7 linked regions of the Homo sapiens genome follow. The protein of the gene in region 7 interacts with the protein of the main gene of each other region in a biochemical or structural test. Each region holds a gene or a part of one and is shown on either strand. Other genes may lie near its edges.

Evidence for each region.
Region 1: the proteins of TJP1 (region 7) and JAM2 form a complex in vitro, tested with the Homo sapiens proteins (2 studies listed by BioGRID and IntAct, with this or other methods).
Region 2: the proteins of TJP1 (region 7) and MYOZ2 interact in a test that uses a peptide from one of them, tested with the Homo sapiens proteins (one large-scale study listed by IntAct).
Region 3: the proteins of TJP1 (region 7) and XKR7 interact in a test that uses a peptide from one of them, tested with the Homo sapiens proteins (one large-scale study listed by IntAct).
Region 4: the proteins of TJP1 (region 7) and CLDN2 form a complex in vitro, tested with the Homo sapiens proteins (2 studies listed by BioGRID and IntAct, with this or other methods).
Region 5: the proteins of TJP1 (region 7) and MARCHF3 interact in a test that uses a peptide from one of them, tested with the Homo sapiens proteins (one large-scale study listed by IntAct).
Region 6: the proteins of TJP1 (region 7) and KIF17 interact in a test that uses a peptide from one of them, tested with the Homo sapiens proteins (one large-scale study listed by IntAct).

The regions. Positions count from the first base shown.
Region 1 is NC_000021.9:25,714,567-25,718,433, forward strand, and holds the end of JAM2 (junctional adhesion molecule B isoform 1 precursor), read left to right. Parts: exon of another isoform or gene 1-8; intron 9-73; coding exon 74-106; 3' UTR 107-2,996; downstream 2,997-3,867. UniProt on the Homo sapiens protein: Junctional adhesion protein that mediates heterotypic cell-cell interactions with its cognate receptor JAM3 to regulate different cellular processes. Plays a role in homing and mobilization of hematopoietic stem and progenitor cells within the bone marrow.
Region 2 is NC_000004.12:119,134,203-119,139,266, reverse strand, and holds the start of MYOZ2 (myozenin-2), read right to left. Parts: upstream 3,436-5,064; 5' UTR 3,285-3,435; intron 2,756-3,284; 5' UTR 2,742-2,755; coding exon 2,666-2,741; intron 1-2,665.
Region 3 is NC_000020.11:31,991,545-31,996,008, forward strand, and holds part of XKR7 (XK-related protein 7), read left to right. Parts: intron 1-3,523; coding exon 3,524-3,726; intron 3,727-4,464.
Region 4 is NC_000023.11:106,926,356-106,930,819, forward strand, and holds part of CLDN2 (claudin-2), read left to right. Parts: intron 1-1,695; 5' UTR 1,696-1,873; coding exon 1,874-2,566; 3' UTR 2,567-4,464. UniProt on the Homo sapiens protein: Forms paracellular channels: polymerizes in tight junction strands with cation- and water-selective channels through the strands, conveying epithelial permeability in a process known as paracellular tight junction permeability.
Region 5 is NC_000005.10:126,873,231-126,877,694, forward strand, and holds part of MARCHF3 (E3 ubiquitin-protein ligase MARCHF3), read right to left. Parts: intron 1-4,464. UniProt on the Homo sapiens protein: E3 ubiquitin-protein ligase which may be involved in endosomal trafficking. E3 ubiquitin ligases accept ubiquitin from an E2 ubiquitin-conjugating enzyme in the form of a thioester and then directly transfer the ubiquitin to targeted substrates.
Region 6 is NC_000001.11:20,690,508-20,694,007, forward strand, and holds part of KIF17 (kinesin-like protein KIF17), read right to left. Parts: intron 1-3,500. UniProt on the Homo sapiens protein: Dendrite-specific motor protein which, in association with the Apba1-containing complex (LIN-10-LIN-2-LIN-7 complex), transports vesicles containing N-methyl-D-aspartate (NMDA) receptor subunit NR2B along microtubules.
Region 7 is NC_000015.10:29,707,135-29,711,598, forward strand, and holds part of TJP1 (tight junction protein 1), read right to left. Parts: intron 3,867-4,464; coding exon 3,697-3,866; intron 1,903-3,696; coding exon 1,425-1,902; intron 1-1,424. UniProt on the Homo sapiens protein: TJP1, TJP2, and TJP3 are closely related scaffolding proteins that link tight junction (TJ) transmembrane proteins such as claudins, junctional adhesion molecules, and occludin to the actin cytoskeleton.

The sequences.
Region 1 (3,867 bases), on a different chromosome or scaffold from region 7:
GATATTCATAAGATTTATGTTTCTTTAAATATGAATTCATATATTTAAACCTGTTTTTTCTTTCTTTTCCTAGGATTTCAAGCACACAAAATCCTTTATAATTTAAAGACTCCACTTTAGAGATACACCAAAGCCACCGTTGTTACACAAGTTATTAAACTATTATAAAACTCTGCTTTGTCCGACATTTGCAAAGAGGTACACGAGGAAATGGAATTGGTATTTCATTTTAATTTTCATGACTACTAACTCACCTGAACTTGCTATTTTAAACAAATAGTTCTGTCGACACCTAAAATATAATCTGGCTTCTTGTGTCTGGACTAAGTTAAAAGAATTAAAATACTTTGTAATGTCCTGGGCTTTGGGAAATGTTAACCACGTCCTAACTTCTAGAGAACGTTACTAAAATATAACATACTGATTGTGAAGTCAATCCACAGGTCATGAAAATATAAATCAGACTCTGCACGAGAGTCTGATTTAGGGGGTCCAACAAATACTCTGACAGATGCAAAAGGAACCTCTGGTCTCATTTCTGCCAGAATCCTCTTTTCTCCCCTAATATCATCCTTATTCTGATGCTCGTTCATCACTAACACACCCACAGAAAGGAGGAAGCGGGATGGGTCTTATGCCCAAGGATTTGCACTTTGTGTTTACTTCCATTCCTGGGAACTAAAAGCAACATCAAAAGAAATGCCTAATGGCTGGAGCCCACAGGTGTGCACCACAGGATTTGCCTGGTGTGTGTCACTGATTTCTTCATTAAACGTAATTTAGATGGTCAAACACAAACCCAAGTGGCTTATTTCACCCCTACTGCTGCTTGCCACTGCTTCCTTCTTGTAAGATTTCTTTGAAGAGGATCAGTGACTTTGACATCAGAACTCACCACTGGAGCCTACACAAGTTTGCAGATACCTTTCCCTGCAGGAGTGGTGACTTCACATCTTTCTGTCTCTAAAAATTGTGCAGTGACATTCCGGGCCAAGTCCCTTAGTCAGGGGTTGACAATTCTGCTTTTGGACAAGGAGGGATGTGGAGGGAAGAAGTAATAGTCTACCAGGAAAATGAGACGAAAAAGCTCAGTATGACTCCCTGCATCTGGTACCCCTCTTGAAACACAGTGGGCACATGAGCAATGGCTCAAACGAAAAGTGGATCTAATGTGGGTTTCTCAACCGATGAACCACAAAAGCTTCCAGCTACTATTACAATGTGAAAATTCCAATGATCCGTTTACCAGAGCAATTAGACTATGTTAAAAATTCATATCATTTGTAACTTCTTTTAATTACTGAATTGATATTAAAAACAAAATATGGCTAGGGCATGTCCTATTCTTCTGGGCAAATGTGGATGAAAAGGTCACTTGCTACCTTTGACAACTATGAACATGATGGTTAATCTTCTTTCTTTTTTTTTTTTTTTTTTTGAGACGGAGTCTCACTCTGTCGCCCAGGCTGGAGTACAGTGGCACAATCTTGGCTCACTGCAACCTCCGCCTCCCCTCCGCCTCCCAGATTCAAGCACTTCTCCTGCCTCAGCCTCCCAAGTAGCTGAGATTATAGGCGTGTACCACCACACCTGGCTAATTTTTGTATTTTAGTAGAGAAGGGTTTCACCATGTTGGCCAGGCTGGTCTCAAACCTCTGACCTCAAATGATCCACCCCCATCAGCCTCCCAAAGTGCTGGGATTATAGGCATGAGCCACTGCACTGGGCAGGTTAATCTTCTTTCAAAAGAGTCTGCTCTTTCTACCCAATTGGCGAAGCAAATCCCCAGGATTCACCGAACAAATGGATTAAGCACCCACTGAGTGCCTAGCATGTGCCTGGACACCAGGCCACCGGGAAGATGCTCCCCCTTTGACTTGTCTATGACATGCTATGTCTCTCACCAGATCCCTTCCTGGAGGTCGGGCTTCTGTAACATGGCTCTGCCCCCAAAATAAAATTTTCACCACGAGTCAGGGATCGGCAAACATTTTCTGTAAAGAGCCAGAAAGTAGATATTTTAAGTCATAAGGTCCCTGTTAACAACTACTTGACTCTGCCATTGTAGCACAAAGGCAGCCACAGACAAAACAAGCAAGTAGTCATGTCTGTGTTCCAATAAGACTTTATTTACAAAAACAGCAGGCACAGACAAGATTTGGCCCACAGGCATAGATTCCCAACTCATGGTGGTGAAGTACAGAAAAAAACACCTGTCTACAAGCTTTTGTAAGAAATCAGGCTAAATGTTACCTATGTTTTGGTTGGAAGATTTCTTTGGTTTGAGGAATGCTTTCCTCTTGCATTGGCATGCCAAGAGGATAGATGACTCTGAAAGACGCCTCTTCAGACATACCTGTCATCACACAAGATCAACTTCTTCAGTTTAAATGACACAAATCCATATTGTGGAAGGAAAATATGTAGTGCCTTAGCTTCACTAATAGTTGTAAAACTTCTTTTTAAGACATCAAAGGCTAGAGGATTCATTTTATGCAGTGCGAACATCTAATAACACTCTCTGTGTCAAATATATATTGTACATTACCTTAAACTATTGTAATAGCTAGGTAAAAATCCTTGTATAAAAGAATGTTTTCCCCCACACAAAGGGCAGAGTATTGAGCACTAATTTCCTATTAAAAGTATATATATGTATCTGTGGGTCACTGGTGTCCAGACTTGTATTTGCATTTGTGTTTACTTGAGGAACTTGAACACTAACAACTGGTAAAATCCCATTGTAATTCTTACAGCATTTTGACTTTATTTTCCTGCAGTGAATTGTGTTGTGTAAAGATTAGGGCTTTAAAATCTTATTAGCAAGCTTTGTTTTGTTTTAATTATTGTTGCTGTTGTAACTAGATTTAATTTATTTTTAGTTGGAGGTTTGACCTAAGTCTGGACCAATTGATTGCTTTTCAATACAACTTTGCAAAGAACTTCCTTTTTCCACAGGTGGCTTTGTTCGATTAAAGTCTACACTAATAAAAATAGCTGAACTTGTTAAACTTTTTAGCCCCATATAACAGTGCAGGGAAAGAGTCATCCACCTATTGTTATTCATAAAACCCAGGAAACTACACCCTCTTACCTTCTGTAGCTACAAGGCTAGCTGCTGGTTAGCTGCTTAAGATTAGAATGTCATCATCTCTGGATGGCTGCCAACTTCTCAAATGCTGAGAAAAATGCTCTGAAAATAAAAAGCAACAACTATTTATTGAACACTTTATATATGTCAGAGGTGGGGATGGATGGGGGTGAGGATGTAGAAAATCTCATTCATCTCAGCGATACTATAAAGTGGGTAATGTCATCATTTTGCAGATGAGGAAACAAGAGTTACTGACTTGTCAAGTTCATGGAGCTGAGGAGTGAGGAATCAGGGTCTGTGGGGACCCAGATCAGTCTGATCCAGGATGTTTCACACACCATGTTTTTCTCTACCCCCAGGCTGACTTCCTTTTAAATTCTTTGCTGTTATTGTTGAGATGGGGTTTTGCTCTGTCACCCAGGCTGGAGTTCAGTGCCGCGATCACGGCTTACTGCAGCTTTGACTTTCCAGGCTCAAGTGATTCCCCCAGCTCAGCCTCCCAAATAGGTGACACCACAGGTGTGTGCCATGCCCAGTTAATTATTTATTATATTTTTGTAGAAGGGGGGTCTTGCCACGTCGCCAGGCTGGTCTCAAACTCCTTGACTCAAGCGCTCCTCCCTCTTCGGCCTCCGAAACTGCTGGCATTACTATAGGCCTAAGCCCGGTCCTTTTATTTATCTATTTATTTTTAAATTTTATGTATTTATTTATTTTTTGAGACGGAGTCTCGCTCTGTCGTCAGGCTGGAGTGCAGTGGCGCGATCTCAGCT
Region 2 (5,064 bases), on a different chromosome or scaffold from region 7:
CTGCTTCCGGCCAAGGTGATGATGATGGTAATCATAACTATGATATAATGAGGAAGGTAAATCTAAAAGCAGGCAGCCTGCATGTTTGGGATGCTTTTTATTAGTCAATTGTTGGGAGTGTAGTATATTTGCTTCTAGTACATAATTTGAAACCAAATCACAATGGATTCAAAATGAGCAACAATTTGGGGTTGTGATTAGTGGAGGCTGGGAGTTATCCACCTCTCACTCATTCTATGCAGTTAGCATTATAATCTATATGAAGAGAATTTTTTAATAATTCTTTGAGGTTATCACTCCTGATGGAATGAGGGCTCTGATGTAAAACTCCCCATTTCTGGTTCTTATATTTTTCTAGTGATTTATCTCAAAGACTCACCGGCTGCAATCTCTTTCCCCTACAAGAATGGGATTGAATTTCCACCTCATGTTAAGAGGACAACAAGTGATTTAGCCAACTCATTGTCACATTTTATACTCCTCCAAGCTAAATGTTTTGGTAAGTAGTAATAAAAATTAAATGAGTTATGAGGCTGAAAAAAAATTCTGATGCACAAGGGGAAAGGAGAGAAGGCAGGAGAAGGGGATTTCGACTGGAACATCCTTTTCAATTTATCTTTATAAAGGACAATCCAGGCAAAATTTGATTTATTTAGTCTTACAATTAAGATCAAAGCAGTTGCATGTTTTATCTTAAATTATCCAGATTTTTACTCCTGTAAAATGTTTGAAAGTTTGGAGGATCATTCCCAAAAAAGTTTCTCTGAAGTCCATTTTATTATGCATCCTGAGAAAAAATTATACTCCCCTAGCTCCAGATCTCTAAACATCATGCTATACACAAATAGTAAAGTTCCATATAAAATGTCAGAGGAAATAAGAGAAGAAAAATATTTGAGCGGTTTCATAAAGTACTGAAGTTATTTCATCTGGGATGAGCTTGGAAAGAGTCTGATTATCCCCATGTTATCTGAAATACTTGACATTCCAACAAAGACAGAGCATGTGACTCCTCTTAAGGGAGCTGGTACTCATCCAGTGACATGGGAGGGAGGGCTTCAGCTGACTTTACGTGGCTAGGATTTACTGGTGGTGAGATAGTGGTTTTGAGGGTTTCCCCCACTTTGATATATAATTGTGTGTTTTCTCCCACATATTTTTTATAAAAACAATAGTTATGTTTATAAAAAAAAGGAAAAAAAACTTCTTACCCTTATAGATCTATGTCAGAGCTAACAGTAGATTCCAACACATGATTTAGGCTAGAATACATTAAATGGACTGACTGTTTTATGATTAGGATGTCATTAGAAAATAATAACATGAAAGGTCTATTTTAAGGTAAACAATTTTGTCACAAACTCCAGTGATCATCTGATTTTTGCCACATTGATCAGAAAAGCTAAAAAATAATTTCAAGTAAACTACTTGAATCTGGAAACACAAAGATGCATGAAATTTTAAATAAGGCATGAATTTTGGAACTTTGGATTGGTATGAATTCAGTTCTGGTATCTGACTCAGAATTATTCTCATTTTATTCCAAGCTAATTTGACATTACAGTAAAACATGAGAACCAAGTTGAATCCAGTACAGTGGTTCTGTATTGCAGAAAATAGAAAACAACAACGGACCTCTTAGTTATGATTACATTGCGTGGGGAGCATCTAAAAGTCTTTGATTCTGTTCCTCTTGCTTTATGGAAGGTGTAATATGAAAACATTATGCTCAATACTCTTCCCGGGTCTCAAGCTTCTAGGTCTCAATATTGTAGTGGTGAAAGGCTGCATTCCTTGTCAATACAGGGGAAATAAGGAGGCATTCTGAAAATGCCACTAATATATCTGGAATGGCTCAAATCAGCTCCTAAGAGGACCTGAATATTTTTCTTAACATTTAAAACTGATGCTATACGTTGCTTATAAACAAAGTTGAATTTCCTTTATAAGAATCAAAATGCAAGTTATAAAGCATTGCTTTCTCAAGTTAGTTGCTAGAATTTAAAGAAAAGGAGAGAGTGAAATATTACCTTGCACGTAATATATATTAAAATTTTTTTGAGTCATATGCTTTGAGACTACAATAACTTTATATTTTCTCAGAAGTTACAAATAAAAGTAGACTTTGCACACAAAATATGTTAGTAAATCAATTAACAAATATGAAGGGTTAAATAAATAAGCAATAGAAATGGAGTTAAATAATAAGCAATAAATATGAATTCCAACTTAATAGCTTGATAAAAAAGATGATAGAACTTATTTTGAGTGATTTATATAATGTAAGGTAAAAGAAATCAAGCTAAACCATGTGGGATGGACAATAAAGACAAGATTGTATGAGACTTGTCCAGAAAAAAAAAAGAATCGAGAGTGATCTTAACTTATAATGTGGAAGGCAAGCCAAGCAGAATGTACATCAGCTGTCAGATTGCTTCATGCCTTTTACAGCAGTTGTTCCTCTGAAAATAGCTTCCAAATGAGAAAGGATGACTACAAAAGGATTAGTTACCATAGGCTTTTCTACACCCCCTAGAGCTCCAGGTTTGTTATGACAGAACAGCAAGAATCTAAAGGAAGTAAACTATGGAATATTAAACAACGTCAGGATGGAGCCACATTCATGCTGTGCTATATTAATGCTACGAAGGATTTTTATTGATACCATTTCCATGGACTTCCTTCATGATGGCTGTTGCTTGCTGTTTTCTCTGCTTCATCATAGTATTATGTGATAGCATGGTTTTTTTGTTCCCTGTTAAAAACAAAGGGACATTATTGAGGCAATGTGAAGAACTCATTTGGAGTGTCTTATAATCACTGTTTTGAAAGACAACATCTTTGTTCTTTATTAAAAAGTTATTATCGCTTGCTACTGAAAGACTTCAATACGCATTCCTTATCTGGTGACAGAGTATGTTATTCATTGACAGGCAATGTCACAGTGAACAGAGACCCAGTCTGGACATTAATACAATGATCATCAGGCAGTGAGAAACAATGAAATTGCTGGTCTCCTTTCCCCTCCCTCTCTTTTCTCCACAGTATTTTAGTCTGTCATTGTCTCCTCACTGGCCTTCATTTGTACCAGCATCACACTCCATCAATTCCAGCAAACTGTAAGAATGAAGAAGACACTAGACTAAACCAGAATTCTTTGGTGGTAGCATTTTAATATTGGCAACAGCTGCCCTTTAAAGCAGAGAATGCCCATTTATGAGTCACAACTCTGAATATCCTTGGACAACTGACTAATGAAACATTTTAGGAAACAACATACTCACCTTGCTGTTAGATTGTGCTTTTTCAGCGGGGATGAATCCCAGTTTGTGGAGGAAGACTCTGGAGATGGACTATGGATGGCACTTGGGCCTGATGGTTTTTATCCTTGAACCTGGGACAGCATGGTCCCTACTCTGACTCAAACTGGGGACTGAGCTTTTCTGAAGAGACTGGCATTCAGCTGACATCAACTGGCTATATATAGCACCAAATACTTTAGCTACTCATATCTTCCTGGCGAAAGGGAGGAACAGGGAAAGATTAGGCTCTCTCCATTGTGTTTCTAGTTTGTGAGATGGTTAAATGAAACGTTCATTGGACATGCAGAAAGTTTTTAGTGAGCACTTTCTGTTGAACAGATAGTAGCCAAAAGGGATTTTAAACACTTTTAAACATCTAGCTCTTATGTTACATGTTAATTGAGGTGGCAAGAGACACATGCATGAATCAGAACAGAATGATAGATTTTTCATAATTAAAATGAACAATATAGGCAGTAATATCTATGTAGACTCAAGAAGAAAGGAAGTAATGTGGGGTGGATCAATAGAGCCAGTTCTTAAGCTGTAGTGAGAACTCATGCTAGGTTGAGAAAAGTATGTAGTATTTGAATAGTGAACTCAGGAAGCATTTTGAAATGAACCATTAGAGGATAAGCCATGAAGCTGGGTAAAAGCTGAGACTCATAACTGGGTCATGCTTTTTGAAGGGCCTACAGAGACCAGTCCCTGCAAAGTTGACCAGTCTTTACAATGTCTAGGGTCAAGGATTTTCATTTGCAGGCCTGACAAGATTTGAAAGGTTTGCCTGTCAAAAGGTTTGGCCTCCTTGATGGTCCCTGGACACAAAAACGTGCTCTCATCTCTGGGCTTTTCCTTTTACTGTTTCCCCCTTTCCTTTTACTATTTCCCCCTTTCCCTGGTTGAAATGGTGTCCTCAACAGATAATCATTATGTTAATTTTGGTTTCCAAAATGAAAATAGATACTGTATTCCTTTTACTATTTCCCCCTTCCATACTTTCCCTCTACTCACATGGCACAGTCATGCATTCAGGACTCTGCTCAGATAACAATCCCTCATAAAATCCTTCCCTTATCACCTTGTCTAAAATATCACACTGTGCCACTCTCTAGTCCCTTACTCTGCTTCATTTTCTTTATATTTTTCTATTAGTTAAGATAAAAGTCAAATGGGAGTGACAGAAACCCCCCCAAAACAGAACTGTAAAAAGATGGAAGATGTTTCTCTCACAGGTAAGCTTAGTCTAGAAGTAAGTAATTGAGGGTTTGCATGACTGACATAATTATCAAGGGCTCAGTTACCCTCTAACTTTTTGCTCCACTATCCCTAAAATGCAGACCCCTTGGGCCTAATTGGCTGCCCCAGCTCCAGTCAGCATGCATATATTTCAACCAGCAGGAAAAAGAAAAAAAAATGAGAAGGGAACACTGTCTTCTTTTCAGAACATGTCTGATATTTTGTTCATACTTCTGTTTACATCCCATTGGGCAGAACTTAGCCATATAGCCGTACATAACTCAAGAAAGGTTGGGAAGTGTAGCTTCTATTCTAGGTGGTCATGAGCCCAATTAAAATTCATACATAACTTACTAACAAAGAAATAATTGTTGCTGAGTGACAACTCAGTTTTTTCACTAAGAACATGCCAACATTATTCTATCTATCTATCTATCTATCTATCTATCTATCTATCTATCTATCTATCTATCTAGCAAAAGTTTATGTTATGTACAATTCTAAAGGTTGAAATGGCGTCCTC
Region 3 (4,464 bases), on a different chromosome or scaffold from region 7:
TCTAAGCCACTGAGCCAAGCTCATCACCCCTGATTCTGGGATGGCATTCAGATAGAGAATAAAATCTGAACTCTTCAGTCCAGAATTTCATGCCCTTCACAATTCTAGTCTCCTTATGTCCCTGCCCATTAAAACCCCTTGTCCAGGCCCAGCAAACCTCTGGCCATTCCCCTAAAATGCCAAATTCTTTCAGGCCTCTGAGCCTTTGCTTCAGCTGATTCTCCCACCTGGAATGACCTTCCATCTCTTGTGTGCCTTCAGATGCCAACCCATGCTTTAAAACTGAGATCAGGCCAGGCGTGGTGGCCCACACCTGTTATCCCAGCACTTTGGGAGGCTGAGGCGGGTGGATCACCTAAGGTCAGGAGTTTGAGACAAGCCTGACCAACATGGAGAAACCCCGTCTCTACTAAAAATACAAAATTAGCCAGGCATGATGGCGTATGCCTGTAATCCCAGCTACTCGGGAGGCTGAGGCAGGAGAATCGCTTGAACTCTGGAAGCGGAGGTTGTGGTGAGCCGAGATCACACCACTGCACTCCAGCCTGGGCAACAAGAGCGAAACTCTGTCTCAAAACAAAACAAAACAAAACAAAAACAAAAACAAACAAAAAAACTGAGATCAAATGTTTCTTCCTTCCAAGGCATCTTATAGCATTATTTCACTTCCTATCTTGTCTCTCTTCCATGGGACTGGGAGATACATATGGGCACACAGCCTGGCACAGAGCAGGTGGTCAGAATCCACCTGCTACATGAATGAATCATTCTGGCTGCAGGGATCCTTATGTGTGGGGTAAGCAGGAGTCCAGAAAATGGAAGATACAGGGAGACAAATTTCTGCTTATCAGAAGAAATACAATCCAGACCTGGAGCTGCTCAGAAGCTGAGGTCCCTGTCCTGGGGAGCGTGTGAGCAGTGAGTGTAGATGCAGCAGGCTGAGGTCCCTGTCCTGGGCAGCGTGTGAGCAGTGGGTATAGATACACCAGGCTGGAAATGACTGAAGGAATTCCAGCATGGCACAGGAGAGTTGGACAGAGGGGGCTTTGCATTTCCAGAGTCAGCTTCTGAGGGAACAGCCCCCTTACCCATCCTGGCTGCCAATCCTGTCATGTGTTATGTTGATGGTGTGTTTATGCCATAGACTGATGCCAGGATGACCCAGGGATGGGGAGGAGGGTCCTAAATGGGATGTTCCTGGCCTCATTTTGCAGAGAGAGTCCCAGAATATTCACTCTGAAAGGATCTCCAGAGTCATCAAACTCATCCCTTTCATTGGCAGATGGAGAAACTGAGGCTTTGAGAGGGCCACACAGCTGGTAAGACCAGTATACTCATTTGAGGAAATTTGGTATCAGCTGGCCCCACATCCAGGGAGAACTGTGACTTCCTCCCTTGGGCTGTGAATAGAGTGAGTCCCCTGGTTCCCAAACAACATCCTGGAAATGCCAGCGCTTCACCCTGGGAATAGACCCCAAATCTCTGGCTCCCCAGTTTCAGATCCAGGCAGCGGGGTCAGAGAATCTGTGTAAGGGTTCCCCCTCCACACACACACACACACACACACACACATACACATACACACACACACCACCCCCAGTTTCCTGGGAAAGCCACTTTTGGAAGAGTCCTCTGGTTTGCAGCAAAGAGTGTGCCTGCCCCGTGAATCAGAGAGTTTGGGGAGCCGGCGGGAGTAGGGGGCGCTGGGAAGGTGGCAGGGTCTGTAGCTGCAGGAGTAGAGCTTCTGGGCAAGGAACCAGGGCAGAAGGGAAATCAGACCCAGAGATCTGTGTGGAGAGTTCCCCTCTCACCCTACATGGGCACTGTACTTCATAGTGTGCAAAGTTTCTTTTCATTCATTTAATCCTCACCGCCACTTTGGGAGGGATTAACTAGGGCTCAGAGAGGGTCTTGCTCAAGATCACACAGTAAATTAGAAGCAAAGTGGGATTGATCTCAGGACTTCAGAGTCCCTTCTATACCCCCTATAGGGTTACTAGAGTTCCATTCAGTTCAACAAGCCTGCAGTCGTGTTTCATTCATTCAGCCCATATAGATTAAGCACACTTTCATTCATTCAGCCCATATAGATTAAGCACCTACTGTGTGCTAAGAACTGAGGATGCAGCACTTAGCAAGCCAGCCTAGTCATTCTCCAGGTACTCACAGCATGGGGGAGATGTGCACATAACCAGGCAGTTACAACCCACTGTGACAAGTGCTAGCTAGATTAGACGGAAGCCTGGGAGAGGCCCTTACCCTAGGTGGAAGGTGGTCAGCGGAAGCTTTATGGACAAAATTGTGTTCAAAAGCTGAGCCTTGGAAGAAAAGCAAGAGTCATCCCGGGTTGGGGCCGGGATGGGGTTAGGGGATAGGGCAGGGTGTTTTAGGGAGAGGAAACAATAGGTACAATTCCTCAGCAAGGAGGGAGAACATTGTGAGCTCTGGCTCTGTGACCTGTGCAGAGTGGCCAAGAAGAGCCGGAGTTTGTTGGGAGAAGTGGCATGAGAGGAAGCAGCAGTTTCAGATGCCAAGGAAAAGTGTCTGTGAGCACCTTCCTTGCACCCTGGGGTGAGAGCTGGGCACTGAGCTGTGAGGATCTCACCTCATCTGGGCACTGAGAAGGGAACAGGCCAGGGAGCTGCTGGTGGCAACAGAACCGGGGCTGGCACCAGGCAGTAGGGACTGTTCCTGGAAGGAACCTATGTGAGCAAAACTTTTTATGGTTTACAGTCAGAGGCAGTGTTGTCTAATGGTTAGAGTGCCGGCCCTGAGGCCAGAATGGCTGGGTTTGTGTCCTGGTTCTACTGCTTCCTAGCTGTGTGACCTTGGATAAATGACATATCTCTCTGGGTCTCAGTTTGCTCACCTACAAAATGGGAATTGGGCCGTGTGCGGTGGCTCATGCTTGTATTCCTAGCACCCTGGGAGGCCAAAGCAGGATGATCACTTGAGATGAGGCCAGGAGTTCAAGACCAGCCTGGGCAACATAGCCAGAAAAAAATTTAAAAATTAGCCTGGTGTAGTGGTACATGCCTGCAGTCCCAGCTACTTAGGAGGCTGAGTCGGGAAGATTCCTTGAGCCCAGGAGTTTGAAGTTGCTGTGAGCTAAGATCGCACCACTGCACTCCAGCCTGGGTGACAGAATGAGACCCCATCTCTAAAATAAAACAAAGTAAGGGTCGGGTAACAGGGCTATTGTAAGCTCAGCGCACTCCAAGGTGTCAGTAACCCTCCAAAGAAAGCACGCCCCAACCGTTATAGGAATAAGGGCGATACCGCTGTTGTATTAAAGGCTTTATTTACTTAGTGCCAGTCCTCTCTCTAAGCTAATGAGTCCATTCAGTGCTCCTCAACAGCAGCCTCATAAGGTGATCCTTTCGAAATGCCCATTTCACAGCTGAGGAAACAGGCTCAGCGTAGGGAGTGACTTGCCCCCTGCGCCTGTGGGCGGCTCGGGGCTGGTGCGACAGAGCGAGAGGAACCAGCGCGCGGGAGCCTGAGCACCGCGTCCTTCCCGCAGGTACCTGCGCGCCCTGTACCTGGGGCTGCAGAGCCGCTGGCGCGGGGAGCGGCTGCGGCGCCACTTCTACTGGCAGATGCTGTTCGAGAGCGCCGACGTGAGCATGCTGCGCTTGCTGGAGACCTTCCTGCGCAGCGCGCCGCAGCTAGTGCTGCAGCTCAGCCTGCTGGTGCACCGCGGTGGCGCGCCCGACCTGCTGCCGGGTGAGCCCGCCCCTTCACCCTCTGCGCCTGGGACCACCCCACCGGGCCTTTCTCCCTGCTTCAGGCTCCCTGGGGATGCCCTGTGGGCTTCCCCACCCCAGCTCAGGGCTCACTCAGTCAGGGTTTAGGGAGGCCTGCCCCTTCTACCCTCACCACCCTCCAGGCCTCTCGAGACCCCCGCGTCCCCTTCGATGGCCCACTTATACTCAGAGTGAGGAGGGACCTGGCCCCTCCACTCCCTCGACACCCATCAGCCCCCCTGGGCGCTCCTGCCCTCCTCCCTTCCCCGTTGCCAGAGCCAACCAAACCCCATCTCCCACCCAAACACCTTAGACCCTCTGGGGAATCCCCTGCCCACTTCCTTCCCCAACCTGATCCCAGCCTGCATCTCCTGGGGACCCCCTGCCTCATAGACCTGGCCAATCACCATCAGTTTCCAGAGAGCCTACCCCTTCACTGGGGGGCCCCGGGGGGCCCTCCCAGGCCTAGTCCTGGCACCCATCCCCTCCTCCTCCCTACAGGCCCTGTTAATTTCCCACCTTGCCCCTTCCATAATGACAGAGCCCCTCAATATCAGAGAAAAACCGCATCCCCCTGTCTCCCTGAAGCACTCCGTGCTCTCCCAACCTAGTCCCTGCCCAACCCATCCTCAGTGTCCCAAAAGACTATCACCACCCCTCATGGCCCTGGGGACCCCTTGCCCAGTTACGGGGTCCCAATCACAACGCTTCCCACCTT
Region 4 (4,464 bases), on a different chromosome or scaffold from region 7:
TCAGAAGGGTCTATCCTGGAAATTCAGATTTGGGAGGGTCAGTGGATGGGTAGTAGATTAAGTTATGGGGGCAAGATGAGTTTGCTCAGGGACAGAGTGTTAATTGAGAAAAGGATGGACTTCTGAGGAATACTCACATTTAAGAGATGAGTAGGGAAAGAGAAATCTTGAAGAAGGCTAAAATGGAATAGCCAGATTGTGGTGGGTTGAAAAATTAGTGGGTTAGTTCGGGCACGGTGGCTCATGCCTGTAATCCTAGCACTTTGGGAGGCTGAGGCAGGTGGATCACTTGAGCTTAGGAGTTCAAGACCAGTGTGGGCAACATGGCAAAACCTGGTCTCTACAAAAAATACACACACACACACACAACTAGCCAGGTGTGGTGATGCGCTCCTGTAGTCCCAGCTACTTGTGGGGCTGAGGCAGGAGGATCACACACACACACACACACACACACACACACACACACACAACTAGCCAGGTGTGGTGATGCGCTCCTGTAGTCCCAGCTACTTGTGGGGCTGAGGCAGGAGGATCACACACACACACACACACACACACACACACACACACACAAACTAGCCAGGTGTGGTGATGCGCTCCTGTAGTCCCAGCTACTTGTGGGGCTGAGGCAGGAGGATCACTTGAGCCCAGGAGGTCGAGGCTGCAATGAGCCGAGATCATGCCACTGCACTCCAGCCTGGGTGCCAAAGTGAGAACCTGTCTCAAAAAGAAAGAAAGAAAAATTAGTGGATCAGAGGGTCTTGTAGAGAATGGGGAGGTGTGCCCTTGACCCTTAGTGTCCTGAATCTTGGCAACACCGAGGGCTCCTTGAACACGGCAAAATCTTATATGGCTCTGAGATTCCAAAGCATTGACTCAGATACCTGCCTCATGCAAAGCCCTATATTCTAGAGCAGTTTCCCTTTCCTCTGTGGCAGACTCTTGTCCCCCCTAACAGATGGCCCAGGGAATTTCAGGGCCCCCTCTCAGTCCTGGAACCCTTGTTCCAGAGTGCTCCCTCATCATCCAAGAGGCTGATGATGGGAGCATCTATTAGGAGACTGGACAGGAAATGTCTGGGCATGTTATACATGCAGGAGGCCTTAGACTAGGCTGCAGAGGGGGATTTGGGCATGGCTGGGAGGATCTGAACTCTCAGAGTATGGACAGAAGGCTTTGCTGCCCACCCCCATCTACCCTGGAGTAGATTTTCACCATGGGCAGAATGATCCAGGGCTAGGCCACTACTCTCTAGGCCCCTGGAGATTCAAGAGGCCTCTAACAAACTGGAGTCCAAGACTACATTCTAGGATCTGTTCCTCCTGATGTAGTCTGCAGTTTGGCCTCAGTCTGCAATTGAGGGGCCCTATGGCACTGTTGCTTGGCAATGTATTAAACAGCAGGCCTTGGAGACTAGCACTTGAGTTAACACAGCCACCACAACCACCACTGCCATCATCACCTTCCCGGAAAGCAGCCACCTGTCTGGCTCCTGGCTTTGTCCAGCTGCCAACCTAAGGCATGTGCCTACGCAGGAGGCGATGACATTTTGGCTCCACGTTCAAAGTTGTTTTTTTTTTCCTTTCTCATGTGTTATTTCTAAAGATAACAAAGGTCAAAAGGCATCCAGCGTTTTCTGGTTTCTCATAAGCTTCTGGTCAATATTTAATCTGGTTTATGGATTTTTTTTAGGTCTTCTAGATGCCTTCTTGAGGCTGCTTGTGGCCACCCACAGACACTTGTAAGGAGGAGAGAAGTCAGCCTGGCAGAGAGACTCTGAAATGAGGGATTAGAGGTGTTCAAGGAGCAAGAGCTTCAGCCTGAAGACAAGGGAGCAGTCCCTGAAGACGCTTCTACTGAGAGGTCTGCCATGGCCTCTCTTGGCCTCCAACTTGTGGGCTACATCCTAGGCCTTCTGGGGCTTTTGGGCACACTGGTTGCCATGCTGCTCCCCAGCTGGAAAACAAGTTCTTATGTCGGTGCCAGCATTGTGACAGCAGTTGGCTTCTCCAAGGGCCTCTGGATGGAATGTGCCACACACAGCACAGGCATCACCCAGTGTGACATCTATAGCACCCTTCTGGGCCTGCCCGCTGACATCCAGGCTGCCCAGGCCATGATGGTGACATCCAGTGCAATCTCCTCCCTGGCCTGCATTATCTCTGTGGTGGGCATGAGATGCACAGTCTTCTGCCAGGAATCCCGAGCCAAAGACAGAGTGGCGGTAGCAGGTGGAGTCTTTTTCATCCTTGGAGGCCTCCTGGGATTCATTCCTGTTGCCTGGAATCTTCATGGGATCCTACGGGACTTCTACTCACCACTGGTGCCTGACAGCATGAAATTTGAGATTGGAGAGGCTCTTTACTTGGGCATTATTTCTTCCCTGTTCTCCCTGATAGCTGGAATCATCCTCTGCTTTTCCTGCTCATCCCAGAGAAATCGCTCCAACTACTACGATGCCTACCAAGCCCAACCTCTTGCCACAAGGAGCTCTCCAAGGCCTGGTCAACCTCCCAAAGTCAAGAGTGAGTTCAATTCCTACAGCCTGACAGGGTATGTGTGAAGAACCAGGGGCCAGAGCTGGGGGGTGGCTGGGTCTGTGAAAAACAGTGGACAGCACCCCGAGGGCCACAGGTGAGGGACACTACCACTGGATCGTGTCAGAAGGTGCTGCTGAGGATAGACTGACTTTGGCCATTGGATTGAGCAAAGGCAGAAATGGGGGCTAGTGTAACAGCATGCAGGTTGAATTGCCAAGGATGCTCGCCATGCCAGCCTTTCTGTTTTCCTCACCTTGCTGCTCCCCTGCCCTAAGTCCCCAACCCTCAACTTGAAACCCCATTCCCTTAAGCCAGGACTCAGAGGATCCCTTTGCCCTCTGGTTTACCTGGGACTCCATCCCCAAACCCACTAATCACATCCCACTGACTGACCCTCTGTGATCAAAGACCCTCTCTCTGGCTGAGGTTGGCTCTTAGCTCATTGCTGGGGATGGGAAGGAGAAGCAGTGGCTTTTGTGGGCATTGCTCTAACCTACTTCTCAAGCTTCCCTCCAAAGAAACTGATTGGCCCTGGAACCTCCATCCCACTCTTGTTATGACTCCACAGTGTCCAGACTAATTTGTGCATGAACTGAAATAAAACCATCCTACGGTATCCAGGGAACAGAAAGCAGGATGCAGGATGGGAGGACAGGAAGGCAGCCTGGGACATTTAAAAAAATAAAAATGAAAAAAAAACCCAGAACCCATTTCTCAGGGCACTTTCCAGAATTCTCTCATATTTGTGGGCTGGGATCAAGCCTGCAGCTTGAGGAAAGCACAAGGAAAGGAAAGAAGATCTGGTGGAAAGCTCAGGTGGCAGCGGACTCTGACTCCACTGAGGAACTGCCTCAGAAGCTGCGATCACAACTTTGGCTGAAGCCCCTGCCTCACTCTAGGGCACCTGACCTGGCCTCTTGCCTAAACCACAAGGCTAAGGGCTATAGACAATGGTTTCCTTAGGAACAGTAAACCAGTTTTTCTAGGGATGGCCCTTGGCTGGGGGATGACAGTGTGGGAGCTGTGGGGTACTGAGGAAGACACCATTCCTTGACGGTGTCTAAGAAGCCAGGTGGATGTGTGTGGTGGCTCCAGTGGGTGTTTCTACTCTGCCAGTGAGAGGCAGCCCCCTAGAAACTCTTCAGGCGTAATGGAAAATCAGCTCAAATGAGATCAGGCCCCCCCAGGGTCCACCCACAGAGCACTACAGAGCCTCTGAAAGACCATAGCACCAAGCGAGCCCCTTCAGATTCCCCCACTGTCCATCGGAAGATGCTCCAGAGTGGCTAGAGGGCATCTAAGGGCTCCAGCATGGCATATCCATGCCCACGGTGCTGTGTCCATGATCTGAGTGATAGCTGCACTGCTGCCTGGGATTGCAGCTGAGGTGGGAGTGGAGAATGGTTCCCAGGAAGACAGTTCCACCTCTAAGGTCCGAAAATGTTCCCTTTACCCTGGAGTGGGAGTGAGGGGTCATACACCAAAGGTATTTTCCCTCACCAGTCTAGGCATGACTGGCTTCTGAAAAATTCCAGCACACCTCCTCGAACCTCATTGTCAGCAGAGAGGGCCCATCTGTTGTCTGTAACATGCCTTTCACATGTCCACCTTCTTGCCATGTTCCAGCTGCTCTCCCAACCTGGAAGGCCGTCTCCCCTTAGCCAAGTCCTCCTCAGGCTTGGAGAACTTCCTCAGCGTCACCTCCTTCATTGAGCCTTCTCTGATCACTCCATCCCTCTCCTACCCCTCCCTCCCCCAACCCTCAATGTATAAATTGCTTCTTGATGCTTAGCATTCACAATTTTTGATTGATCGTTATTTGTGTGTGTGTGTCCGATCTCACAAGTATATTGTAAACCCTTCGGTGGGTGGGGGCCATATCCTAGACCTCTCTGTATCCCCCAGACTATCTGTAACAGTG
Region 5 (4,464 bases), on a different chromosome or scaffold from region 7:
AACAAGCTTCAGTTTCCTTGTTTGTAAGATGTGAATAATGATATTTGATGTAATGCATATAAAACACCTAGCACAGGGCACAGAGCATACATTTTAGTGTTCTTGGGCTGGTATTTTGTGTGTCTTAAATATAAGAAAGAATTTTGTGACACCCTTTAGATACAGGGTAACAGAAAAAGAAAAAAAAAAAAAAAGAGAGACAGAGACAGATTGGGCTATTTCCTTTAAGGCTCTGCTCTCGGCGTGGTCCTGGACCAGCAGCAGGCTGCATCACCTGGGAGCTTGTTAGAATATCAGAATTTTGGGCCCCACCCAGACCTAAGGAATGAGAGAGTGCATTTTAACAAGACCCCCAGGTGATCCGCATGTGCATTCAAGCCTGAGACGCACTGCTTCAAGGAACACAGGGAGTCAGCGACTTAGCAGGTCTCCTGGTTCCATGGCCAGGAAATTAAAAAATTCAGCCCACTTGTGTAGACAAACAGATGAGATCTTATTATACATTAATCTATTTTAATTGTGGTTAATCACTACAGTCTGCAGGCAAATTCAATTAATAAGAAGAAAGCAACATAAGAAGATGCTTCTTTGTCAGGGAAAATAAAGGCAAGTTGAGCACAACGCCAAGGAGACCACAGGTTTGCATTGCCCTGGGTTAATGCTACTTCTCTAGATGCTCCAAGACACTGCATCCCTGCAATGCAATATAATTGGAAAGAAAGGAGGTCTAATTTAGAAGAAGAATAAGGCAGCGAGGAAAAAGAAAACATAAAAAGATGCTCCAACAATAATGTTAGGAATTTCACTTAGATATTTCTTAAATTTTTGAGTTTAGGAGAGAGGAGGAAGAGAGTATAGGGCCACTATTATAAAAATACTGCTCCTTATGGGATGCGCTTCCTGAAGTTTCTAGTTTATTCATCTAACTAACCTCCTATCATGGGCAAGTCTGCTGTACAAAGAGTTGTGATCGCATGAATATTATGAGAAGGGTTAGAAAATGTTAGCATCCACTCTTCCCATTAGGGAGGTGACTGCGGCTGGGGCAAAGGTGTGCTATAAAGTCACAGCAGGCGGCCTGGTGCAGTGGCTCATGCCTGTAATCCCAGCACTTTGGGAGGCCGAGGCAGGCAGATCACCTGAGGTTGGGAGTTTGAGACTGCCTGACCAACATGGAGAAACCCCGTCTCTACTAAAAATACAAAATTAGCTGGGCGTGGTGGCACATGCCTGTAATCCCAGCTACTTGGGAGGCTGAAGCAGGAGAATCGCTTGAACCTGGGAGGCGGAGGTTGCGGTGATCTCGGCTCACACCACTGCACTGCAGCCTGGGCAACAAGAGCGAAACTCCCTCTCAAAAAAAAAAAAAAAAAAGTCACAGAAGGCTTTGGGATATCTGATTACATATTTTGATTTTGCCCTTTCTCTCTGGAAGTGGTGTGACTTAGGGATATCGATGGGACTAGGCCTTGGCAAACGGCCTCCTCAGCAATGTGCCCAGCTCACCTATCTATCTCTGACTGCACTGGGGAAAAGGAGTATAGGAGTGAATTGGTCATGGGGAAATACCGCTGAATACCCTCAGGATGCTTGTAGGCCGTGTGGGGGATGTGTCTAAAGCAGCCCCACAGTGAGCCTTGTTGGGACAGCGTTCCATTGGCAGTTCCCCCTTTATAAGAAGAATTTAAACAATCAAACCTTGGGACTGGGAGTCACACTTTGAGGAACCGGGTCGCTCATTCATTCCCTTCTGTGCTGGACACTGGTTGCATCAGTGATGCAGTGAGTGGAAAGACTTCCTGTACATGGTGCCTCAATTCTCCTCCAAACTCCAAACTGGGGCTGATACCAAGTCCATTACCGACAATTTCTTCATGTTTAATGTGGACTCAGTTCTCAGCCAGCTCTCTTTGTGTCTGTCTACGGGTTTCAAATCACTTGTGACATGGACAGTGATGTTTCTAGGACACCTCTCCCTGAGCTCTTAGGGTGGAGCTGACCAAGGCCCTGGCCTCCTGGGGCCCAGGTGTGCTTCTGGAACACAGCAGGTTCCAGAAGGTGGGACTCCATGAGGGTGTGTCAAGGCTGGACCTGCATGGCCACGTGTGCCTGCGAGAAACTCCAAGGCACTCTGAGGCGTGCAGCGTGAGCGCTTGTCCTTCTTCACAGTACCAGGGAGGCCCTTCCAGGAACGGCTCCTCTGAGGAGCCAGGCTTGGACTGACACCGTGTTTGTTTATCTAAGACATTTTCACAGCATATTCTCCTTAAGCTTGACAGCTTGTTTACAATGGGTTTCTGCCGCAGGGCAGTTTCCAAGTGCTGTCAGCTTCTGAATTACGGCTCTTGCCAGGGCCGCTCAGCACAGCATTTATCTGGGACGGAGTTATTCTATATTCAGTAACCTATTGCTGAGCTGACTCCACAGCACGTTTTTCACACCAGTCAAAGGGGGAGAGATGCCTTCTTTCCCTCCTGCTACTTTGCATTCTATAAAGGGCAGGGGGAGGGTGGAAGCTGGGGGAGCAGGGAAGCCGCAGGAAGGAGCCTGGGGCCAACACTCTGCTAGGTGCTTGCATGTATGTTCTCAGACGTTATCTCACTTACTCTTTGCAATAACCGATTGACCTAGCGGTTATCAATTATTTCCTGTATTTTTTTGTACAAGAGGAAGGATGAACAGAGAGGTTAAGTATCCTATTTGAATTTACACTGTTATTAGGGTGATAAATCTTGGGTTTAAACACAGGGCCCTTGGATTCTAAACGCATGCATAGCACTGCCCGTGAGAAACATTTCTGGAATGAAGTATGTTACCATTTTCCTGAAAGAGCCTAGTCTAGGTACCTTTTCTACCCAAACCTTCCTTTCACCTGAGATGGGAGATGAAACGAGGTCACATCCATTTTTTCTTGAGATAACCTTTCTTTTCTTCCTTTCTTCCTTCTTTTCCAGCCACCTATCACCCTGTTTCTTTCTTGTTAGATAAGTGTATGCTTTACAAAGCAGGATTTCAGAAAGGCCTTACATTGGTTTTGAAAGCCCAGCATTTAAGCTCACTTCATCCATCCTTCATCATAGGCACTCTTCTAAAAAAAATTATAGACTAGAAAACCTCTAAACATGGCAAGAACTTATATTATTCTCCAAAGTACTTTCCCATAAACACTTTGACTTAAATCTCATAACACCAGGGGAATTTGGCAGGATGGGCATTACCACTATTTCCACTTGACAGATGAGGACACTGAGCCTCACAGAAGCCAAATGACTTTCCCAGGGTGGTGCTGTTGACCAGGAGTTAGATAGTGCTGCTTAGACTCCTTCATTTCTTATTTCTAACCCTCCTCCCATCACAATGGAAGCTACTGGAACAGCTTCGTTGCCTGATTCAAAATGAACCAGGATGAACTTTGGAAGCGTAGACTTTTTTTTTTTTGAGATGGAGTCTCACTCTGTCACCAAGGCTGGAGTACAGTGGCACGATCTTGGCTCAGTGCAACTCTGCCTTCTAGGTTCAAGCAATTCTCCTGCCTTGGCCTCCCAAATAGCTAGTATTACAGACATGCACCACGATGCCCAGCTAATTTTTGTATTTTTAGTAGAGACAGGGTTTCGCCATGTTGGCCAGGCTGGTCTCGAACTTCTGACCTCAAGTGATCCGCCCGCCTCAGCCTCCCAAAGTGCTGGGATTACAGGCATGAGCCACCGCGCCCAGCTGGAAGCGTAGACTTCTAAAGGAAGCAATAATAGTTTTGCTTGGGGCTTCACTAGCCTGGGAACAGAATGTCTAAATTAACCATAAGACTCAGATAAGTTCTTAGCATTAGAACACTCCCTCTTTACTGAAACTGAAATGTATCTCCTTACTGTTTGAACACTCTCACTGGAGGGGAGGCACAGAGCTGGAAGAGCCATATGATGAAGAAGAGGGAAATGAACAGGGTTGTGGGAGTGGCAGCTGGAGGAACAGGGTCTGGGAGACACAGAAAGGGAGGAAGTATGTGCTAGAAGCAGCTTCCACATGCTGACACTGTGCTATGGGATATGGGAATGGTACACTTTAGACAGGAAATACATATTGAATAACAGTGGAACGTGCTCAGATTAGAAACGAGCAGGCACAGGAGAGTAATGCCAGGAAGCAGGGGGCCCAGCTTCTGAAAATATTCTAGAAGACAGTGATGTCCTTCCCTGCAGCTCCCAGAGGAAAGCATAAGGAGAGAGATCAAATGTTGCATTTTGTGGGTGCTGTCAACTGGTACTCAAGCGATCAACTTACTGCATGAAGTTAAAAGTTAAAAGAATGAAAAAAGTGATATGTAAAAATTCTTCCTCACACACAGCGAGAACACTTATTGGGAAATGGCCTTTCTTTGGTGGCAGCTTCTCAGCTAGATAAATTAGTGCTTTTATGGGCAGCAGAGTCAATATCCCAACACACAGAATAATCACCAGGCAAAGT
Region 6 (3,500 bases), on a different chromosome or scaffold from region 7:
GTTCTCAATGCTTTTTTGTTTTGTTTTGTTTTTGAGACAGGGTCTCACTCTGTCCCCCAGGCTGGAGTGCAATGGCATAATCATGGCTCATTCCAGCCTCGAACTCCCAGGCTCAAGTGATCCTCCTGCCTCAGCCTCCCAAATAGCTGGGACTATGGGCATGCCACCATCAGCAAAAAAAAATTTTTTTTTTTTTTGAGACGGAGTCTCGCTCTGTCGCCCAGGCTGGAGTGCAGTGGCGCCATCTCGGCTCACTGCAAGCTCTGCCTCCCAGGTTCACACCATTCTCCTGCCTCAGCCTCCCAAGTAGCTGGGACTACAAGCATCCGCCACCACGCTCAGCTAATTTTTTTGTATTTTTAGTAGAGACGGGGTTTCACTGTGTTAGCCAGGATGGTTTCGATCTCCTGACCTCGTGATCCACCCGCCTTGGCCTCCCAAAGTGCTGGGATTACAGGCGTGAGACACCACGCCCGGCCACCATCAGCTAATTTTTTAAAAAAATTTTGTAGGCCGGGCGTGGTGGCTCATGCCTGTAACCCCAGCACTTTGGGAAGCTGAGGCAGATCGCTTGAGGCCAGGAGTTCAAGACCAGCCTGGCCAACATGGCGAAACCCCGCCTCTACTAAAAATGCAAAAATTAGCCAAGCGTGGTGGCTTGCCTGTAATCTGTTACTGGGGAGGCTGAGGCATGAGACCACTTGAACCTGGGAAGTGGAGGTTGCAGTGAGCCGAGATCACACCACTGCACTCCAGCCTGGGTGACAGAGTGATACTCCGTCTCAAAAATAAAAATAAAACAGAAATAAATAAAAAATTTATAGAGTAGGGGTCTCACTGTGTTGCCCAGCTTGGTCTTAAACTCCTGGCCTCAAGTGATCCTCCCACCCCAGCCTCCCAGAGTGTTGGGATTACAGGCATAAGCCACCACACCCAGCCTCTCAGTGCTTCTTTTTTTTTTTTGAGATGGAGTTTCACTGTTGTTGCCCAGGTTGGAGTGCAATGGCATGATCTTGGCTCACTGCAACCTCCAACTCCCAGGTTCAAGCGATTCTCCTGCCTCAGCCTCCCAAGTAGCTGGGATTACAGTTCAGTTGTCCACCACCACGTCTGGCTATTTTTTTTTTTTTTTTTTTTTTTTAGTAGAGACGGAGTTTCACCATGTTGGCTAGGCTGGTCTCGAACTCCTGACCTCAGGTGATCCACCAGCCTCAGCCTCCCAAAGTGCTGGGATTACAGGCATGAGCCACCATGCCCAGCCTGCTCAGTGCATTTTTTAACAGACGAATAATATATGCATTTGTTTGCAATCTATTTTATCCACACAGCAATATATCATGAACACCTTTCCATGTTGGCAAATACCTTTCTGCCTAATGGTCCTCAACCCATCAATGACAAAATATGTTTTTATTCACCCACTTCTCTCCATCTTTGCTATCACTGCCAGCTCTCGTCCAAACAGCCACCTGGTTCTCACCTCTGTTCTCACTCTGGCCCCAACCTCTCTCTGACACAGCCATAGTGCCCACCCAGGTGTCTCCCCTGCTTAGGATCTGCTAATGGTATCCCATGTTCATGGATGAAATCTAAGCTCCTCAACTTGACCTGAGACCCAAGTGATTTGGCCCTGCCTCCCCCTCAACTGCTATGATGCACATTTGGGGACTCCTAGACACACCCACTTCCTCCCTGCCCCAAGGCCTTTGCCCTGCTCCCTGGCAAGCACCTTCCCAGGCCTCAGCTTAGTAACATCCCTCAGAGAGGCCTTCCCTGACCATACTCTCAGAAGCAGAAGGCCTCCTGCACTGCTCCCTGTCCCTTCCTCTATTGCTTTTTTTTTTTCCTCTGGAGACAGAGTATCGCTCTGTCACCTGGGCTGGAGTGCAGTGGCTCAATTTCAGCTCACTGCAACCTCCACTTCCCAGGTTCAAGTGATTCTCCTGATTCTCCTGCCTCTGCCTCCCAAGTAGCCTATTACATGTGCATGCCACCATGCCTGGCTAATTTTCGTATTTTTGGCAGAGATGGGGTTTCGCCTTGTCGGTCTTGCAAAGTGATGGGATTAGAGGCGTGAGCCACTGTGCCCGGCTTCTATTTCTTCTTAACACACTTCCTGAGCTTCTATTATGCTATTTATTTTCTGTGTGTGTGCTCATGAATTTGTTTTTACTGGGGTGTAGGGTTGGAAAATGCCACCTTGGGGGCATGCTTCTCCCCCAGGAAATGTTCATTCTGATCTTCCTGGGATGGTTTGTGGGACTCTTTCTTTTTTTTTTTTTTTGAGACAAAGTCTCACTCTGTCACCCAAGCTGTAGTGCAGTGGTGTGATCTCAGCTCACTGCAACCTCCACCTCCCAGGTTGCAGCAATTCTCCTGCCTCAGCCTCCTGAGTAGCTGGGACTACAGGCGCATGCCACCACGCCTGGCTAATTTTTGTATTTTTAGTAGAGACGGGGTTTCACTATGTTGGCCAGGCTGGTCTCAAACTCCTGACCTCGTGATCCACCCTCCTTGGCCTCCCAAAGTTCTGGGATTACAGGCATGAGCCATCACGCCTGGCCTGTTTGTGGGTCTTTTTCTTCTTCTTGGAGCTGATCTTGCTACCAGTGGCCTCTCCAGGCCCATTGCTGATGGTTTCTCCTTGGAAGAGAATCTCCTCTTTTTCTTGGCAATGCTCCTATTGCCTCTCCCTCAGGGTCACTAACTGTTTCCTCCTTGGATGATTACGTCCTCATCTTTTTTTTTTTTTTTTTAGACAAGGTGTCACTCTGTCACCCAGGCTGGAGTGCAGTGACGCAGTCTCAGCTCATTGCCACCTCAAGTTCCAGTGAACCCGAACCCCAACCCCGGCTCAAGCAATTCTCCCACCTCAGCCTCCCGAGAAGCTGGGACCACAGGCACCCACCACCACACTCGGCTAATTTTTTGTATTTTTGGTAAAGATGGGGGTCTCGCCATGTTGCCCAGGCTGGTCTCTAACTCCTGACCTCAAGCAATCCACCACCTCAGCCTCCCAAAGCGCTGGGATTACAGGAGTGAGCCACCGCACCCAGCCTCCACCTTGGGAAGACATGCTGCCAGCTGTCTCCCCAGGATCACCACTAGCCTGCTCCTCCTTGGGAAAGATTTCTTCTTCTTGGGTTTGGAGAGACGAGTCTCCCATTTTATTCTCCTGAGGAGACCCCTGGGGCTTTGGCTTTTGCTTCTTTTGGGGGTTTTCAACCATTTCACTACTCCAGGATGAGGACTCCTGGGAGACAGCCAAGGGCAGGACACACTTGCCCAGGGAAGGGTGTGAATGGGTGTGAATGGGTGTGAATGGTGTGTGAGCTCTCTCAGCAGCACCCTCCTTCCTCACAGCCCTCTACAGCTGCTGTCTTCTGACACCAGGGCAAGGGCCGCCAGTTGCTTCTTTTCCTTCCTTGGGTCTCTTCTGTCTCTCCAGCTTCCTAGTAATCTCAGGAGCTGCTTTTTCTTTCTGAACCATTGCTTCCTTC
Region 7 (4,464 bases):
AAGACCCTTGTATGGGCATATCCCAAACATCCACGAAAGAGAGACAGTAGATTAACTTAGTAATCACAGAACGCCAAAGGCAAAGGGGATGTGGTATCAATGACTGCTTCAAAAGTAGAGGCTATCAACTTCCTGAAAGTACAGTTTTGAGCCAGGGCTCAAAGGTGAGCAGAAAGACCAACGAAACAGAATTACATGAAGGTAGCTGCCGTTTCACTCCAGCATGACCGGAGTGCCAGGGACGACATCCTACGACACAACATCAAGGGAGCAGAGCGCAGCCTGAGCTGCAGAGCAGAGGCCAGCTCTGTCCGCCCCTGACCATCTGTGGATGTGCAGAGCTAGGAAGGCAGTGACCGCCATAACCATCCTTTCTCTTGGAAAGCAGACTCAGGTGGCCATCCTGACCTTTGGTTCTCCCTGCCTGCAAGTGCTTCTGCTTTATGGTGGCGTGAAAATGGAACTGGCTGTAGGAGGCTGAGATGAGCTTTTATGTATGGCCAGAATCCATCTGGTCAATCGCCGTGGAATGAAAGACAGGAAAGAGGAGCTGCAGGGAGGCTCCAGGTGGGCTCACTTTGTCTCATTTGCTCAGCCATCTCACTAACTGCTGCTCTTTAAACAGTCAGAGGTTATTCTATTTTTCTTCTTAGCATCATTGTGGAACAAATAATGAATGAGGAACATAGATACTTAATGTTTTTAGATGTCCTCCACATGCACCTTACCAGTAGGTCAGGAGGTTACAAAAGGTCATGGCTGGTTAAGAGTATGGGCTCCTGGCTGGGTGCAGTGGCTCACGCCTGTAATCCTAACACTTTGGGAGGTGGAGGCGGATGGATCACTTGAGATCAGAAGTTCAAAACCAGTCTGGCCAACATGGTGAAAACCTCTACTAAAAATACAAAAAATTTAGCCAGGCGTGGTGGCACACACCTGTAGTCCCAGCTACTTAGGAGGCTGAGGCAGGAGAATTGCCTGAACCCAGGGGGTGGAGGTTGCAGTGAACCAAGATCGCACCACTGCACTCCAGCCTGGGCGACAGAGGGAGACTCTTGTCTCAAAAAAAAAAAAAAAAAAAAGCATGGGCTCAGAGGTCGGATGACCAGCAGCTAAATTGAGGCTCACCTCACTCTAGCTGTGACCCTGGGCAAACTGCTTACTGTCACTCAACCTCAGTTCTTAGTAAAACAGGGATGATGACAATACCTACCAACCATACACGACTGTTAGCTTTATTATTTTACCAACATCTTGTACCTCCTGGAGGACCTTCTATGTAACAGCATTCATTGCAACAACACTCTTCAGTTTAAAGGTTGAGTTAAAAAGATCACTTTAAAGTCCCAAGTCAAATAAACTACAACAAACTCACATGAGAAAAATCACAGGGCCAATGCTTTGAGCAAAGGCATAAGTCTTACCTCACAGGAATAGCTTTAGGCACTGTGCTGATATTATTTATTTGATATTTAGGCTTCTCTGCATGGATAGAGAAAGTTTCAACTCCACTGTCAAACTCAGGAGGCTGTGCCAAACTGTGCGATTTCACAAGAGTTTTTGGAGAAGTGGGAGTTTTTGAAGACAAGTCAGGTTTATGTGCAGTTTCACTTGGCAGAAGATTGTGATTGAATTTAGGACTTTCAAACTTGCGTTCAAATGGTCGGGCAGAACTTGTATATGGTTTTGGTGTGAATCGATTGTATGCTGGAGTGACTGTTTTCTGAGTCTGTTCAGTTCCATTAACTGGGGCTTTATCTGGAAAACTTTTCTGGGGATAGAAAGCTGCCTGAGCAGTATCTTCTCGGTTTGGTGGTCTGAAAGTTGCTGGCTTATTCTGAGATGGAGGTGGGTCTGGTTTGGACACTAAGGAATTCTGAAAATCCAATGACACTGAATTACCTGAAAAACAAACGTAAGCATTTAAATAACTTTCTGAAAAAAGTTATAATAGCCCTGTCCCAGCTTAACTTGTCCTGGTGCTGGAGTCGAGGCCCAAATGTGGGTCGCACAGCCAGAGCCTGACTCTTGAGCCCTGGAGGCTAGGTGTGATGCTGAGGGATGAGGGCAGCATGGACAGGTGGTGCCATGAATATATATACCCTGCTGCCCTGGAGTCAGGGTCCAGCTGCTAAGATTCCTGGCCTCCAAAGATTGGCACTAGTCTTTGTGAAAACTAGAATGCCCAATAATCATATAATAAGGATACTCACTATTAATTAGAAAAATGTAAAACAAAACCAACAAAAAGCATTAAATACTATTTCACACCCACTAGAATGGAAAAACCGAAAAGTCTGATGATGCCAAACATTGGTTAAAAAGTGGAACCACAGGATTTTTTATGCACTGCCAGCCACAGTGTAACACAGTACCAACTGAACTCTGTGAAATAATTAAGGACACTACAAGACAGGAGAATTATTAATCCAAATACCTCATGAATATAGTAATATAATTTTCCACAGTACGAGAAGAAAAATCATATGGTCATCTTAATACATGCAGGAAAAACATCTGACTGCTTTCAGCAAACTCTGAATATAGGGAATGTCTTAAACATGATAAAGGACATCTACGAAAATCCTAGAGCTAACATTCTAAAGGATAAAACATGAGGTCCTTCCTCCTTAAAATCAGGAACTAGCAAAAGAGGTCCAATTTCACCACTTACATTTCAGAGTTTATTGGAGGTCCTGGCCAGTGCAATCAGCAAGAAAAGAAAGAAGGCTAGGTGCGGTGGCTCATGCCTGTAATCCCAGCACTCTTGAGAGGCCGAGGTGGGCGGATCACCTGAGGTCAGGAGTTCGTGACCAGCCTGGCTAACATGATGAAACCCTGTCTCTACAAAAAATACAAAAATTAGCCGGGCGTGGTGGTGTGCGCCTATAGTCCCAGCTACTCAGGAGGCTGAGGCAGGAGAATCACCTGAACCCGAGAGGCAGAGGTTGCAGTGAGCTGAGACTGCGCCACTGCACTGTAGCCTGGGCGAGAGCAAGGCTTCGTCTCAAAAAGAGGAAAAAAAAAAAGAGAAAAGGCATAAGGACTGGAAAGTAAGAATTAAAACTGTCTTTATCTGTAAACATGGGCATGTGTGAAAAAAAATCTTAATAAAAGATAGCCTCAATCCAGAACTATAACACATCTGCTTGAAGACTCACAAGCCCAAGGAGGTGCCTCCTAAGGGAATAATAAGAGAAGTCTGTGCTAGGAAAATGCCTGTCCACAGCAGAAGAGATAACCACTTTGTGTTATATGCTGAGGGTAAAATGTTACAAAGCTCTTAAGATGAATAATCTGGAGCTATATGTGATCTACCTGGTATGTAAATGCAAAAGTCAAGGTGTATGGGATACATTTTATATGAAACATTATGGCTTTTCTATTTGGGTGTGTGAGATAAAACATAGTAGGTTTTACAAACCATCTTTACATATACTGGCAAACACTACTTCCAGAAGATTTAGAGACTAGCATAAAATAGATTAAAATCTGTTTAGCTAAAAGGCTTGTCCAAAATAATGGTCTTGTAAAAACAGGAGACATACTTTTAACAAAATTCTTAGTTTTTACTGTTCCCAGCCCAAAGGTTTCAAGCATGTATTTTTTAATGTAAAAACCATTTTGCCTAGAAACCACCAGAATTTTACTTCATAAGCATTACTGTGTTAAAATGTCTACTTCCGAACTTCCTACCTTCACCATGTGCTCCCTTAGAATGTATGTGGAGAGACGCGCTGGTGACAGGCTGAGATGGCTGGGCATACTGCGAGGGCAATGGAGGAGGAGGGGGAGTGGCCTGGATGGGTTCATAGCGTTTCTCGCCAAATGATCTATCCACACCATCAGCTTCAGGAGGCTTTCCCCTGTTAACAAATGAAGAAAATGCCAACACCTGAAAATGGACTCACATTTACAAAACAAGTTCTCATTTCTCCATGTATCTCTAAGTTAAAAAAAAAAACTAGAAATTTCACAATTTATTCTCATGAGTATGGGTAGCTACTCTACCAAAATATAAAAACAGATTCGACCATTCATCGGCACAAGAAATGTCCAGACACACAAAAACTTTAAGAATATTAGTAAAACATCCAGAAGATGGCAACCAAAGGCAGGTGAAATTTTGGGTATAGTTTAATTGTTATTTACAAAAGATAGTAATGTTGACAGATTTAAGAAAGTCTTGCAAATATTCTGAAAACATATCATGGCACAAATTTTCCTGAGACCCACTTTTTTTGTTTTTGAGACAGGGTCTCATTCTGTCGCCCAGACTGGAGTGCAGTGGCGCGATCTCAGTTTACCACAACCTCTGCCTCCCAGGCTCAAGTGATTCTTCTGCCTCAGCCTCCCGAGTAGCTGGGATTACAGATGCCAGCCACCACGCCTGGCTAATTTTTGTACTTTTAGTAGAGATGGCGTTTCACCACGTTGTCCAGGCTGGTCTTGAACTCCTGACCT